2 linked regions of the Homo sapiens genome follow. The protein of the gene in region 1 binds, or shares a complex with, the protein of each later gene. Each region holds a gene or a part of one and is shown in the gene's direction. Other genes may lie near its edges.

Region 1 (8,366 bases):
TCCCAGATCCTCTGGCCTCCCCGTCCCCGAGGGAAGCCAGGACTAGGGTCGAATGAAGGGGTCCTCCACCTCCACGTTCCATTCCTGTTCCACCTCAAGGTCACTGGGAACACCTTTCGCAGCAAACTGCTAATTCAATGAAGACCTGGAGGGAGCCAATTGTTCCAGTTCATCTATCACATGGCCAGTTGGTCCATTCAACAAATGGTTATTGGATGCCCATTATGTGGCAGGCACTGTTCCGGGGGAGAGGTACAGTAATCTAATAGGCTTATAAATGTGCAATTATGAACTAAGTACTTTGAAGAAAAGGAACAATGATTGGCATTAAAGCAGCACCCTTCTGTTGAGGGAGTAAGTCAGCAGCTCTAGGTTCTGAAAAGTGACAATGAAATTGTTTGGCTCCTGTAATAGCAATCATCAAGCCTAGAAGTAGAAAGTACCTAGCGGCTCTTCCCTTCCTTGCAAACCTGGCAGAAGGCATATACTAGGTCTCAAGAGAGTCCAGCATAGAAAGACTTCAGGGTGCTAAACATTTTAAATAGATTGTGTCATACAATTCTCACAATAATTCTAGGAGACAGGTGGTACTATTATTCTCATTTTACAGATTAAGAAATTGAGGCTGTAGGATGTTAAACGATTTGCCCAATGTCAACGGTATTTAGTGAATCTAGGATACAAACCCAAGTAGACTGACTCTAGAGCCCGCGTTCCTTTAACATTATAAAATATTGCTGTTGTGGCCTGGTAATTATAATAGCTAAAAAAATTATGGCGCACTTACTATATGCCAGGCATTCTCCTAACCACCTTACATACTACCCCTTTTAATCCTGACAGCAACCCCAGGAGGTATATACCAGTATTAGTATTTAACAGGTGAGGAAACTGAGGCACAAGAGATGTTAAGTTTACTTACCTGAAGTCACACAGGTTGTTATTTTTTTGTGGAGCTGGAATTTGATCCTAGGTAGTCTAACACTATAGCCTTGCACTTAACCACTACATCATACAAAGGAAGCAGGGGCATCTGCAGTGTAGAGGATGGTGAGGAGACAGAATTGGGCTGAGACACAGGAGGAGGTGGCAGTGGAATAGGGGCTGAAGAACCGTGAGAGTCTGGGGTATCTTGCTTGCACAACCCTCCAGGAACACGCGTGGGACCTGAGCTGACACTCTGATCACCCCCTTTTTTGTTGGGTGGTCTCTGGGAATGAGATAATAAATATATTACCACTACCTGCTACATTTCCTGAAAATTTCTTTGCCAAACTTCCAGCATTTTCTTTTTCTTTCCAGATTCTTAAGCAATCTCACTGGCCTTTAGGGGTTTATGTTAGTAACATGGAAATATGAAGACCGTGAACATGGCCCCTCTTCATTTAATCAACCTTAGTTCTTTCTATCATATCTGGTGTTATGTGGCTTTGTGGGGGTTTTGCTTGTTTTTGTTTACTTAAAAATATTTAATTGACAAAAATTGTTTATATTCAAGGTGTACAACATGATGATTTGATATGTGTATACACTGTGTAATGATTACCACAGTCAAATTGATTAACACATCTATCATCCATCACCATCCATAGTTACCATGGGGGTGGTGAGGACACTTAAAATCTGCTCTCTTATCAAATTTCAATAATACAGTATTATTAACTATGGTCACTATATTGCACATTAGATCCCCAGAGCTTATACATCCTATAAGTGAAAGTTTGTACACCAATGCTGACACCGAGGTGGGAGGATCGCTTGAGCTGTTCTCTGTTTTGGACATGCTCCTGCTCATTAATTTCCCCTAAGACGAGGCACTCAGAACTGAATGCAGGACTCTAGGTGTGGTCTGGCTTTGCAGAGTAAGTGGCATGTTACCTTCCTCTGTCTAGATATTTTACTTCCATAAGGAAGCCTCAATGTCACCTTGGCTTTTCTGGAAGCCATGTTAACTGATGACATGCCTTTTGATTACTATCAGCAAAAACCCCTGAACCATTTTCACAAATGCTACTGCTACTCCACTTTCTCCTGGAGTCATTTGAAGTTCAAATTTGGGGCCCAATTATGAGACATCACCTTTAGCCCTGGTAAAATACACTTTGTGGAATTTGGCTTCTCACACCAGGTGATCAAGATCTTTTTGGGAACTAATTGCCCTCTTCTGTCATCCAGTCTAGCACACAAAGCCTTGCACCATTCATAGACTAACCGGGCTACTTTTTATATTTTCCTCAAAGATGATCAATAAAAATGCTGAACAGGATAGCACCAAGAATAGAACCTTATATTGCATTGGGAATCTCTTCAGGTGACACTCAGCTGTTTATTTGCACTATCTGAGTACAGTCTTTCTGTCAGTATGGATGAGTGTGCTAGGGGAGTGGTCGTGGGCAGAGGGTGAAGAAAAGCCTACGTCTACTTGCTCTTTTCCCTTGTGCTCCTCTCTCTCTCTTGTTTAGCTCTCCCATTGGATGCCTATCACCTCCCAGTCCCCACCCCAAGATGGATCTTGAGAAAGGACAGGGCATGTGACAACAAGTGGCATAAGACTGAAGAAAAGAGCCTGGGCACGGTGGCTCACGCATGTAATCCCAGCACTTTGGGAAGCTGAGGCGGGTGGATCACGAGGTCAGGAGATCGAGACCATCCTGGCTAACATGGTGAAACCCCGTCTCTACTAAAAATACAAAAAATTAGCCAGGCGTGGTGGCAGGCACCTGTAGTCCCAACTACTCAGGAGACTGAGGCAGGACAATGGCGTGAACCCGGGAGGTGGAGCTTGCAGTGAGCCGAGATCATGCCACTGCACTCCAGCCTGGGCGACAGGGCAAGACTCCGTCTCAAAAAAAAAAAAAACTGAAGAAAAGAGGAGGGAAGATGAATGCCTGTGGCCAACCCTCAGGCAGGTGAGTGGAACAGCTATTGGGGGTGACTAGCGAAAGGATAGACGTTGTCAATAAAGTAAGGCAATCATACAACACATGCTGTCCATCTGTCTTGTGCAAATGTGAGTATCAACCACTCTATCATCAGTCTACAAATACTTTAAATGTTTTTATTTAAAGTCCTGTTGATGGCTGGGAGAGGTGGCTCACTCCTGTAATCCCTGCATTTTGGGAGGCCAAGGCAGGAGTATCGCTTGAGCCCAGGAGTTTGAGACCAGCCTGGGCAACATAGTGAAACCCCATCTCTACAAAAAGTAGAAAAATTAGCCCAGCACAGTGATGTGTGCCTATAGTCCCAGGTACTAGGGTGACTGAGGTGAGAGGATCACTTGAGCCCAGGAGGTGGAGGCTGCAGTGAGCCATGATCACGCCACTGCACTCCAACCTGGGCTTCAGAGCAAGACCCTGTCTCAAAAAAAAAAAAAAAAAAAAAAGGTCCCAGGGCCTGTTGGGGCTTGGGGGTGAGGGGAGGGATCTTAGAGGATGGGTCAATAGGTGCAGCAAATCACCATGTCACACATATACCTATGTAACAAACTTGCACCTTCTGCACATATACCCCATTTTTTTTGTTTGCTTGTTTGTTTGTTTTTTAGACAAAATAAAGAAAAAAAAATAAGGTCCTGTTGACTTAAAACTTCGGATGAAATTGTAGTGGGACCTGTGATCTGTTTCTACATTAGGATACAGTGCCTTGGGGCAAGGAAATATGGCAGTGCCCGAGGTGTCAAGGTGGGCAGGCAGATCAGTCAGCAGGGGCTCCACCATCATGGTCTGCATTCAATACTGGCTGCATTTCCTAGGAGAATCCCTGGGGGAATCATTGCAGTTGGAGCATAATGTAGGGGGCCCCTGAGAAAACCTCCAGGCTTCAAGTGACATACCTAGTCTGCTTTACCGGTTTACAGGACTCAAGAGAAAGGTGGACATTGAGAGTTAATCCCTGAGGCCAAATCTTAAATGGAGAAAGTCAACATCCACAGAAAATGGGGAAGGGCACAAGTATTTCTGTGGGCTTATATTCCGACATTTTTATCTGTAGGGGAAAAATGCTTTCTTAGAAAATGACTCAGCACGGGGAAGTCTTGTCTCTACCTCTGTCTTGTTTTGTCCTTTGGGGTCCCTTCACTATCAAGTTCAACTGTGTGTCCCTGAGACTCCTCTGCCCCGGAGGACAGGAGACTCGAAAAACGCTCTTCCTGGCCAGTCTCTTTGCTCTGTGTCTGCCAGCCCCCAGCATCTCTCCTCTTTCCTGTAAGCCCCTCTCCCTGTGCTGACTGTCTTCATAGTACTTTAGGTATGTTGTCCCTTTACCTCTGGGAGGATAGCTTGATGACCTGTCTGCTCAGGCCAGCCCCATCTAGAGTCTCAGTGGCCCCAGTCATGTTGAGAAAGGTTCTTTCAAAGATAGACTCAAGATAGTAGTGTCAGAGGTCCCAAGCAAATGAAGGGCGGGGACAGTTGAGGGGGTGGAATAGGGACGGCAGCAGGGAACCAGATAGCATGCTGCTGAGAAGAAAAAAAGACATTGGTTTAGGTCAGGAAGCAAAAAAAGGGAACTGAGTGGCTGTGAAAGGGTGGGGTTTGCTCAGACTGTCCTTCCTCTCTGGACTGTAAGAATATGTCTCCAGGGCCAGTGTCTGCTGCGATCGAGTCCCACCTTCCAAGTCCTGGCATCTCAATGCATCTGGGAAGCTACCTGCATTAAGTCAGGACTGAGGTGGGTCTGGGGTATGGCAGGGGCTGGGCAGCAGCAGCAATGTACCTTGCTTGGGACCCCTAAAAACCAGAGAGACAGCATGGCTGGTGCCATTTATCAGCTAGTGGAGGAGGCTGACGGAGGGTGGGAGTGTCATCAGCACAAGGCCCTGGCAGTCCCTTCTGGTGATTAGAGAGGCCGAAAGGGTCCTTTCCGACAAGGGCTGAGGGTGGGCGGAACAGGAAGAGAAAAATGTGACATGAGGTGACCATCCGAACAGGTAGCAAATGTTAGAAAGGGGTACCTCTGGCAAACTTAGTGGAAAAGTAATATTGCAGGGAGCAGTCAGATAAAAACAAGCCCTTCTGTCAAATAGTGCTTGAAGACTCAATAGGGATACATGGGTCAATGAAGCCTTTAGAAAAAGAAATACTAAGAGGCAGATTCTCTGAGAACATGGTAAAAGCTCACGCTCCACGTTATGAAGTTGACCTTTGTGAGCTAGGGAAAGGCCTGGCTAGGCCAGGGTGTAGGCTACCTGCCTTGAGCTGTACCAGGCCAAATGTCGCCAGGGTCAGAGCTGGCTTATTAAAGGACTGTGTGGAAGCTGTGCCAACCTCGTGGTAACAATGGGTAAAAGACTGGGCCAGGAGAAAGCAGCCTCTGCCTCAGCCCAGACAGTGCGGCCAACCCTTGAGGTTGTGGCAAAGGTTTCTCCTCTTACCATTGCCCTCCATGTGCATGGCTTGCTTTTCTCTTGTCTTCATTATTTCTCCTTTCCTTTCCTCCTCTCCAACCTCCTCCTCTTCCCACTCATCCTCTTTTCTCTACCTATATCCCCTCTTCATTATACCCTCCTCTGTTCTGTTGATTACCAGACCCTGACATACAGTTAGCACTTAACAAATAATTGCCGAATTGCATTGACTTTTTCTTGCTCCTTTCTTCCCCCGCTCTTTTCCCTTTTCCTTTCCCTTTCCATTTCCTCCTCCCTGCCTGCCTAGCACCTTCCCCATAAGGTGGTTGTGAGCAGTAAATGTGCAAATACATGTAAAGCTTTTAAAACAGGGCCTGGCAATAGTAAGTGCTGGATCTCAGTATTTGCTATAATTTTTACTCTGCCTCAGACCTGCCAATGTCCCCCAGAGGGCCTACCTAGAGCAAATAATATGACATTTAGAATAAAAGTGATTGGTGACCCCAATCAAGACATCCTTGGATAAGTTGCCCAGACTCCAGCCTCTCTGGAGCCTCAGTTATTTGATAAAATAATGTCACTTTCCAAATAAGCCACAAAATGCAAATACTCATGGCAACCTAAAGCATTATACCCAAACAGTGTCCCTTAGGGCTTGTCCTGTCTATTCTGACTCCTTTTATATTCAAACTATTTAAACTGCTTGCTTGTGTTGAAGTCCAAATTTCCATTGCGTATGGCTATTGATATTTTTGTTTGGAATTTTTTTTTTTTTTTTTTGACACGGAGTTTCACTCTTGCTGCCCAGGCTGGAGTGCAATGGCACGATCTCGGGATCTCAGCTCACCGCAACCTCCGCCTCCCGGGTTCAAACAATTCTCCTGCCTCAGCCTCCCAAGTAGCTGGGATTACAGGCATGTGCCACCACGCCCAGCTAATTTTGTATTTCTAGTAGAGACGGGGTTTCTCCATGTTGGTCAGGCTGGTCTCGAACTCCCAACCTCAGGTGATCTGCCTGCTTGGGCCTCCCAAAGTGCTAGGATTACAGGCGTGAGCCACCGCACCCACCCTGGAATTCTTTGTAAACTCCTTATGGTGCGAACTAATGTAACTTTCCATCCAGTTATGGGGGATTGGTGCAATTTTAAATTATCACTATGATTTGCTATTTCCATTTGAGCAAATTTCCTATAGAGTTTCCTTTCAGTGGACTAGACCCATATCAGGAAGTGACTTAGGTATAAAGGGAAGATACAGCTTTCGAAAACCAAAGTTTGGGCGTTCTCCAAAGAGTTATCAGATACCCCCTTCTACACCCACAATGATCTGATTGCTGAGATCTGATTGCTAACTACTGAAAATAAGGAAGAACTAGAATTTTCAGTGACACAGTGCTCAGCAAGAAGCTAGAAAAGAGGCCTTGACATATTTGACTCCAAAGCTACTTGGTTATGCATGAAGCCATCTGGGGAGGGGAAGGAGGAGGGAGAACTCCTCTGAGGACCCTGAAACAATTGGGCCACGTGTGACTTTCAGTTTCTATGGAGATTCATGTGCAGTGGCTGAGGGCAATCTGAGAGCATTGGAAACCCAGAAGCTTTAATACCAGGCTCTTCTCTCCGCTCTTAGAAAGTTCTCACAAGATGTCTTTAGGATTATATTGGTTATTTGAATCTCAAGGAGAAGCTCCTCTCACTGCCCTACCTCCCTGAACTGAAAACAAACTGTAGTCTGTTAGCTCACCCTAGAAGAAGGAAATTCTAGAGTCAAGAGAAGTTAAGTTTTAGACAAGCTGGAAGTTGGAATATACTGGAGTTTAAGATCATTGACTCAATGAAAAAAAAAAAAGATTTGTCTGCAGTAAAACCAGAGTTTTAAAAATGATTAGAAATGGACCAGAAAAGAGATAAGGATAATGAGAAAGGGGGCTCTCTAAAACTATTTGGAACTGAAATTGGGACAATGTTTCTGGAAACTATTTTGGCAGTATGTATCAAAATGCAAAATGCACATACTTTTTTGACTCTGGAAATGATGCTTGTATAGAGATCCTAATAACATGGGAAAATAATTAGGAATAATGTTAAATAAGAACATTAGATCTTTTTTTGGAAAAAGGTACCTTGAACGGATGGATGGATGGATAGATACATACATACATGCATACATACATACATAGATGTTACGAAAAATAGGTAAATTAACTGAATGTGCAATATGATCTCAAATATTATAAGAAACACACACAGAAAAAAATGGAAGGAATATGCCGATATATTAATGCCTCTGGATGAGTTTATGAATGATTTTTTCTTTTTTATATCCCTGTACTTGACATATTTTCTACAATAAGCATGTTTTATTTTACTATATTTTGTTTTATTTTGAGATGGGGGTCTCCCTATGTTTCTCAGGCTGACCTTGAACTCTTGGGCTCAAGCAATCCTCCAATATCAGCCTCCTGAGTAGCTGGGACTACAGGTGCACCCCACTGCACCCAGCTGCGTGTGTTATTTTGATATCGATGGAAAAAATAAATAAAATGTTTAAGCCAAGGAAAACAAAAACTAGGTTGAAAAAGAAGGCCAAAAGGGCACACAAGTCCAGAGTGAAAGACAGACACCCCAGCAGTCACCCTCAGAGCAGAGGGAGAATATTGAAAGTATTACCACTGATCTGATCTGGCACTGACTATAAACTTGCAGATTGGCTCTCTGGCTCTCCTTCCATCATCAGTTGGCCAGAATATATTGTCGCTAATGCAAGACAAAAAGAGATGATGAATCACAGAGACCTAGAAGTTTCCAAAACCACAGAAGAAAAATGTAAAATGCTAAAAACATAAGGCCAGGCGCGGTGGCTCAAGCCTGTAATCCCAGCATTTTGGGAGGCCGAGGCAGGTGTCATGGTGTGCGGCTGTAGTCCAAGCTACTCAGGAGGCTGAGGCAAGAGAATTGCTTGAAACTGGGAGGTAGCGATTGCAGTGAGCCAAGATTGCGCTACTGTACCGAAGCCTGGATGA
Region 2 (7,884 bases), on another chromosome or scaffold:
CAGCCTGGCCAACATAGTAAAACTCCATCTACTAAAAATACAAAACTTAGCCGGGTGTGATGTGCCTGTAGTCTCAGCTACTCGGGAGGCTGAGGCAGGAGAATTGCTTGAACCCAGGAGGTGGAGGTTGCAGTGAACTGAGATTATGCCATTGCACTCCATCCTGGGCAACAGAGCGAAACTCCATCTCCAAAAAAAAAGGTAGGAATGAAAGTATGTATTTTTTAAAAGAGTTTCTGAAGCCATAGGGAAAAATACTGGGAAGTCAGCTAATAAATATTATATATATATATATATATATATATATATATATATACACACACACACAGAGAGAGAGAGAGAGAGAGAGAGAGAGAGTGTAATGACACTGTGGAGGACCCTAAAAGTGTACTAGTTTTTGTTCTAGTGCTATACTTATCACTTTTAGTGCTGACATTCCAACTGGAGAAATGAGACATAAGCAAAAGAAAAACAAAAAATAGTTCAAAGCAATGCCAAATAAGCGGTGCAAATAATAAACCCTCCAGAAAAGAAGAGTTTGCTGTGAGTTGGCATGATTTGGAAAACGTCAATTCACATATGATTCAAGAATTGGACTAGATGTTAGGTATTTAAGTCAGGTATGTTGTATTTCAGTGCAAGGGCAGGAAATAGTATAGCTTTTGATTAGAGCTTAATGTTAGCCACATCTGTCAATTTATGTAATATACATATGTTATTGTGTCTAAAATGGCTAAGGTAGTAATCCCGTTTTATGTGCCAATCACATCTACAAAGGGCCATTCTGTTTGTGGCACAGCATTTCAAGAAAGATTGGCAGATTTGTTAACTGGACCAGAGAAAGGTGACCAAGATGTATGAGTCTTAGAAACCATGGCTCAGGAGGATTGGATGAAGGATTTGGTAGTATTTGACTGGAAAATAGGAAGGAGAGTACTGGAAAATAGGAAGGAGAGTACCTGGGTACATGACAACTATCTCCCGTGTAATAGACCTAGAAAAGATAGATAGCAGTGTGGGCTGTTCTTAAAATTTATAACCACTGCTATTAAGTAGGCTGCCCTGCAGTTCTACCATAGGTCCTAATAAAATCACTTTGTCAATCTTTAAAATGACTGTTTCTTGTTTTCTGTCTTGATAATTTTCTAACACTCTCTTCCCACCTTACTGTCAGTTTATAATCTTGCTTCCCTAAGAAAATAGAATCCAAAAGAGAGCTGCTTTATTGCCTCACCAGCAAAACCACTAGGCTACATAATTTATCCTTGTACTTTTCTGTTTGTTCATAAAAGATGAATTGTCCTTGCCCTTTTCTAAGGCCATTACTTCTACTTGTCCTCTGTATTCCATCCCCTACTGTCAACTTAAGAAGGTTACTTTGGCAGTGACATACCCTTTCTCTCGAGTCTTCAATTTTTCCACCTCTCCTGAATCACTCATGTTAGCATATAAACATAATGTACTTTTGCTAATCCTAGGAAAATTTCCATGAATGAATGTCCCCATTCAGCTATTACCTTATTACTCTGCTTCCCTTTACAACAAAATACCTAGGAAGATTTATCTGTGCTTAACTCTGTTTTACTTCCTCACCTTTCATTCTTTCACTTGTTCTGCTAGAAACTGTTCTTGTCATGGTAACCAGGGACTGCCGTGTTAGCAAATCCACTACTTGACCTGTTAATTAGCATTTGATAATCACTGGGTGCTTTGTCGTTGTTTTTTCTTTTTGTGAAACAAGGTCTCACTTTGTCACCCAGGCTGTAGTGTGGTTAGGTGCCATCATGGCTCACTGCAGCCTTAACTTCCCTGGCTCAGGTGATTCTCTCACCTCAGCCTCCCAAGTAGCTGGGACTACAGGCATGCACCATCACATTCAGCTAAGTGTGTGTGTGTGTGTGTGTGTGTGTGTTTGTAGATACAGGGTTTCACCATGTTGCCCAGGCTGGTCTCAAACTCTTGAGCTTAAGCAATCTGCCTGCCTCGGCCTCCCATAGTGCTGGGATTGCAGGCATGAGCCACTGCATTTGGCCTCATCTTTCTTAAGACACATTTTTTGCTTGACTTATCAGACCCCATACTCTTGGTTTTCTATTTCCCTGGTTGGTCCTGAACAATTTCCTTTGTTGGCTGCTCCTTTTTCAAACTTCAAAATGTTGGAGTACCCCTCATAGCTCAGCTTAAATTTATTTCTCCATTTCCTGAGCCCCAAGCTGGAATGTCCAGCTAACTGTTTAAATCTCTACTTGGCTGTAACAGACATTGTAGAGTTAATATGACCAAACCGGAAATTTTCTTCCCCATTCTTCATCCCTCAGATTTGTTCCTTCTTTGGTCTTCCCCATCTCAGTTAATGGTACTCATTTCCCAGCATTAAAAGTTGGCTCAAGTTAGGCATCATCTCTGATTCCTCTCCTTCCTTTAGTTTGTATATTTAATCTATCAGAAGTCTTTTCATTTCTGTCTTCATAACATATGCCAAATCTGACTACATCTCACCATCTCCACCACTGTTTTTTTTTTTTGAGATGGAGTCTTGCTCTGTTGCCCAGGCTGGAGTGCAGTGGCGCAATTTTGGCTCACTGGAAGCTCCACCCGCCGGGTTCACGCCATTCTCTTGCCTCAGCCTCCCAGGTAGCTGGGACTACAGGCGCCCACCACCACGCCCGGCTAATTTTTTGTATTTTTTTTTAGTAGAGATGGGGTTTCACTGGATTAGCCAGGATGGTCTCGATCTCCTCACCTCATGATCCGCCCGCCTTGGCTCCCAAAGTGCTGGGATTACAGGCATGAGCCACCATGCCCGGCCCTCCACCACTATTAACCTAATCCAAACTACCGTCATCTGTGTCTAACATCCTAACAAGTCTTCCTGATTCTGGTTTACCCCATTAAAGTAACATCTCCACCGAGCTGCCAGAGTCATCTTCTGAAAACACAAGTCAAGTTTTATCAGTTGCATGCTTGAAACACTCCTAGAATATTCTACCAAACTTAGAATAAAATATAAACTCTTAGGAAGCCTCTGCTTATCTGGGCATTGTCCTCCTTTTTTTACCTTCTACCACCTTCTTTCTGTTTCTTGATCATGTCAAGCTTTTCCCTCAATTTAAGGTTTTTACACTTGCTGTTCTCTTTGCTTAGAAGACTTCTTTGAGATATTTCCATAGCTCACTCCTTTTTCCCCCCAGTATTAATAATTTTACATGTAATAGATGTATACATTCTTCATAAGGGAAAGAAAACTAAATGCTGTAGGCAATGCCAAATTCCCCTCTGATGCTTACATACAGTTCTGTTTCTAACTTCTAATACCCAGAGCTCAGTAGCATGGGCTAGGTATATACCAGTTTAGTTCGTTTGTATATTTTTAAATTTTTTCACAGTAGTCCAGCATATATTGCATTTTATTTATCCATTCCCTATTGAGAGCTATTCCTGTTATTTTCTGTTTTTTTTTTTCTGCTGTAAATATTGCTGTAATGATCCTCTAATGTGTCTCTTATCTTGAACATAAAGTATTTCCTCAAGGCATGCGCTTAAAAATGAAATAGAGCTCATTCCTTGTTATTTAAATCTTTGTTCTGGTGCCATTTCTTCGGACACGGATTCCACGCGTGTTTGAACAAGAGGGGACATTGTTGACGTTGTATATTTATTATAAGTTTCCAGAAGATGGCAGTAGTGTCTTGAAGAATTATGTCTTTTTGTATTTTTTCATAAAAGTATCATATGGGCTAGCATTGACTCTTAGCAGAAAATGCTTCCCTGACTACCCTATCTAAAATGACTTCCTGCTTCCTGGTTTCTTTTAATGACCTTACACTACTTTTTTCTTCAGAGCATCTGTCACTGTCTAAAATCATACTGCCTTAATTACTTCTGAAGCCATACTTTTTCACTACATCTTCTGGGTGAACTGATCTTCTATTTTACTATACTTCCCATTTTTGTTTATGTTATTCTCTCTACCTCAGCAATCCACTTGTCTAGACCCTGTCCATCCTTCAAGTCCAAACTCTAATGCGCCACTTTTCCATGAAGTCTTTGTGATTTCCCCCCACTTTCCTGGCTGGAGAAGATTATTTCTCACTTCTAAGTTCGTATAGCATATTGGTTTCCAGAAATGACTATACATCAGAATCATTTGGGAAATATTCAAAAGATACAGATTCCTAATTCTTATCCTTAGAGAATCTTTCATTAAGTAAGTCTAGGATGTAGCCAGAGAGGTGGGTTTTGTAAAAAGTATAGCATATTAATTGTATTCTCATTTGACCATTATGAAGTTCAAACTTTTATTGGAGTTATAGGTAATCGATGCATATAGCTCATCTCCTTTACCAGAATATGAGAGTAAAGGATGAATAAAGATTGTGCCATGATACTTTTTTCCATAGGTTTATGTTTGTGGAATTTAATATTAGCATGTTTCTTTTCAAATAGTTATTCATTTTGGACCTGGAGAAAGTTCTTCAGAAGATGCTGTCATGATGAATACACCTGTGGTTAAATCTGCCTTGGAAATGGGCTTTAATAGAGACCTGGTGAAACAAACAGTTCAAAGTAAAATCCTGACAACTGGAGAGAACTATAAAACAGTTAATGATATTGTGTCAGCACTTCTTAATGCTGAAGATGAAAAAAGAGAAGAGGAGAAGGAAAAACAAGCTGAAGAAATGGCATCAGGTATTTGGGGATGTTAGTCACCTGCATTGTTTCTCAGTGGAGCTCTTAGGACTGTCTCACATGTTACAGGACACCATGCTTGTTTCACATCCACTAACTGCTGGTAGCAGTCCTCCAGTCATTTCGAAACCATCCCTCCTTTTCTACCCCTTTCAATTGCTTCTAGTTGAGAACCATTGACTGCCGCTTTTTTCTATACATTTATTTTCGGATGAGGTTCTCTGATTTATGCCAATCAGAGAATTTTAGCATAATAAGCTCTTTCTTGAGCTGTATTCCATTTCTTTCTCATACATAACAAATTTAAATTGTTTTGAAAAAGCAAGATGTTAAAGTTGGATGCAGGTCTTTTTTCAACCTGTTTTTTTTTTTAAGTTTCTGCAAATCATATTTTTAATAGGATACTTTACTCCCTAATCCTTGCTAAGTGATCCTCATACACAAAATAGAACTTACAATGAAATTCTGGGGCTTGATGAGAACCACCTGCCCAATCCAAGGATAACAGGAAAACTGATTTTTGTATTCGTCCAGATAGTATTAAGTCTCGGCCTCTCAAAACAAGTATTTTGAGTAATCATTTATTCCTTCAATAAATTTTTTTTTTTCTTTTTTCTATTTTTTTTTAATTATACTTTAAGTTTTAGGGTACATGTGCACATTGTGCAGGTTAGTTACATATGTATACATGTGCCATGCTGGTGCGCTGCACCCACTAACTCATCATCTAGCATTAGGTATATCTCCCAATGCTATCCCTCCCCCCTCCCCCCACCCCACCACAGTCCCCAGAGTGTGATATTCCCCTTCCTGTGTCCATGTGATCTCATTGTTCAGTTCCCACCTATGAGTGAGAATATGCGGTGTTTGGTTTTTCGTTCTTGCGATAGTTTACTGAGAATGATGATTTCCAATTTCATCCATGTCCCTACAAAGGACACGAACTCATCATTTTTTATGGCTGCATAGTATTCCATGGTGTATATGTGCCACATTTTCTTAATCCGGTCTATCATTGTTGGACATTTGGGTTGGTTCCAAGTCTTTGCTATTGTGAATAATGCCGCAATAAACATACGTGTGCATGTGTCTTTATAGCAGCATGATTTATAGTCATTTGGGTATATACCCAGTAATGGGATGGCTGGGTCAAATGGTATTTCTAGTTCTAGATCCCTGAGGAATCGCCACACTGACTTCCACAATGCTTGAACTAGTTTACAGTCCCACCAACAGTGTAAAAGTGTTCCTATTTCTCCACATCCTCTCCAGCACCTGTTGTTTCCTGACTTTTTAATGATTGCCATTCTAACTGGTGTGAGATGGTATCTCATTGTGGTTTTGATTTGCATTTCTCTGATGGCCAGTGATGATGAGCATTTTTTCATGTGTTTTTTGGCTGCATAAATGTCTTCTTTTGAGAAGTGCCTGTTCATGTCCTTTGCCCACTTTTTGATGGGGTTGTTTGTTTTTGTCTTGTAAATTTGTTTGAGTTCATTGTAGATTCTGGTTATTAGCCCTTTGTCAGATGAGTAGGTTGCGAAAATTTTCTCCCATTTTGTAGGTTGCCTGTTCACTCTGATGGTAGTTTCTTTTGCTGTGCAGAAGCTCTTTAGTTGAATTAGATCCCATTTGTCAATTTTGGCTTTTGTTGCCATTGCTTTTGGTGTTTTGGACATGAAGTCCTTGCCCATGCCTATGTCCTGAATGGTAATGCCTAGGTTTTCTTCTAGGGTTTTTATGGTTTTAGGTCTAACATTTAAATCTTTAATCCATCTTGAATTGATTTTTGTATAAGGTGTAAGGAAGGGATCCAGTTTCAGCTTTCTACATATGGCTAGCCAGTTTTCCCAGCACCATTTATTAAATAGGGAATCCTTTCCCCATTGCTTGTTTTTCTCAGGTTTGTCAAAGATCAGATAGTTATAGATACGCGGTGTTATTTCTGAGGGCTCTGTTCTGTTCCATTGATCTATATCTCTGTTTTTGTACCAGTACCATGCTGTTTTGGTTACTGTAGCCTTGTAGTATAGTTTGAAGTCAGGTAGTGTGATGCCTCCAGCTTTGTTCTTTTGGCTTAGGATTGACTTGGCAATGCGGGCTCTTTTTTGGTTCCATATGAACTTTAAAGTAGTTTTTTCCAATTCTGTGAAGAAAGTCATTGGTAGCTTGATGGGGATGACATTGAATCTGTAAATTACCTTGGGCAGTATGGCCATTTTCACGATATTGATTCTTCCTACCCATGAGCATGGAATATTCTTCCATTTGTTTGTATCCTCTTTTATTTCCTTGAGCAGTGGTTTGTAGTTCTCCTTGAAGAGGTCCTTCACATCCCTTGTAAGTTGGATTCCTAGGTATTTTATTCTCTTTGAAGCAATTGTGAATGGGAGTTCACTCATGATTTGGCTCTCTGTTTGTCTGTTGTTGGTGTATAAGAATGCTTGTGATTTTTGTACATTGATTTTGTATCCTGAGACTTTGCTGAAGTTGCTTATCAGCTTAAGGAGATTTTGGGCTGAGACAATGGGGTTTTCTAGATATACAATCATGTCGTCTGCAAACAGGGACAATTTGACTTCCTCTTTTCCTAATTGAATACCCTTTATTTCCTTCTCCTGCCTAATTGCCCTGGCCAGAACTTCCAACACTATGTTGAATAGGAGTGGTGAGAGAGGGCATCCCTGTCTTGTGCCCGTTTTCAAAGGGAATGCTTCCAGTTTTTGCCCATTCAGTATGATATTGGCTGTGGGTTTGTCATAGATAGCTCTTATTATTTTGAAATAGGTCCCATCAATACCTAATTTATTGAGAGTTTTTAGCATGAAGGGTTGTTGAATTTTGTCAAAGGCTTTTTCTGCATCTATTGAGATAATCATGTGGTTTTTGTCTTTGGCTCTGTTTATATGCTGGATTACATTTATTGATTTGCGTATATTGAACCAGCCTTGCATCCCAGGGATGAAGCCCACTTGATCATGGTGGATAAGCTTTTTGATATGCTGCTGGATTCGTTTTGCCAGTATTTTATTGAGGATTTTTGCATCAATGTTCATCAAGGATATTGGTCTAAAATTCTCTTTTTTTGTTGTGTCTCTGCCCGGCTTTGGTATCAGAATGATGCTGGCCTCATAAAATGAGTTAGGGAGGATTCCCTCTTTTTCTATTGATTGGAATAGTTTCAGAAGGAATGGT

Evidence for each region.
Region 2: the proteins of BTK (region 1) and BIRC2 are in contact, whole or in part, in a crystal structure (PDB 6W7O), measured with the Homo sapiens proteins. Residues at the interface, in NP_000052.1 of Homo sapiens: Leu483, Asn484, Arg487, Glu488, Tyr551, Ser557, Lys558, Arg562, Lys595, Met596, Tyr598, Glu599, Arg600, Phe601, Thr602, Glu605; in NP_001157.1 of Homo sapiens: Pro280, Ser281, Ser282, Asn301, Asp302, Asp303, Arg314, Cys315, Glu317, Ser318.

What each region holds. Positions count from the first base shown.
Region 1 is NC_000023.11:101,382,364-101,390,729, reverse strand, and holds the start of BTK (tyrosine-protein kinase BTK), read left to right. Parts: upstream 1-4,538; 5' UTR 4,539-4,668; intron 4,669-8,366. UniProt on the Homo sapiens protein: Non-receptor tyrosine kinase indispensable for B lymphocyte development, differentiation and signaling. Binding of antigen to the B-cell antigen receptor (BCR) triggers signaling that ultimately leads to B-cell activation.
Region 2 is NC_000011.10:102,363,860-102,371,743, forward strand, and holds part of BIRC2 (baculoviral IAP repeat-containing protein 2), read left to right. Parts: intron 1-4,446; coding exon 4,447-4,689; intron 4,690-7,884. UniProt on the Homo sapiens protein: Multi-functional protein which regulates not only caspases and apoptosis, but also modulates inflammatory signaling and immunity, mitogenic kinase signaling, and cell proliferation, as well as cell invasion and metastasis.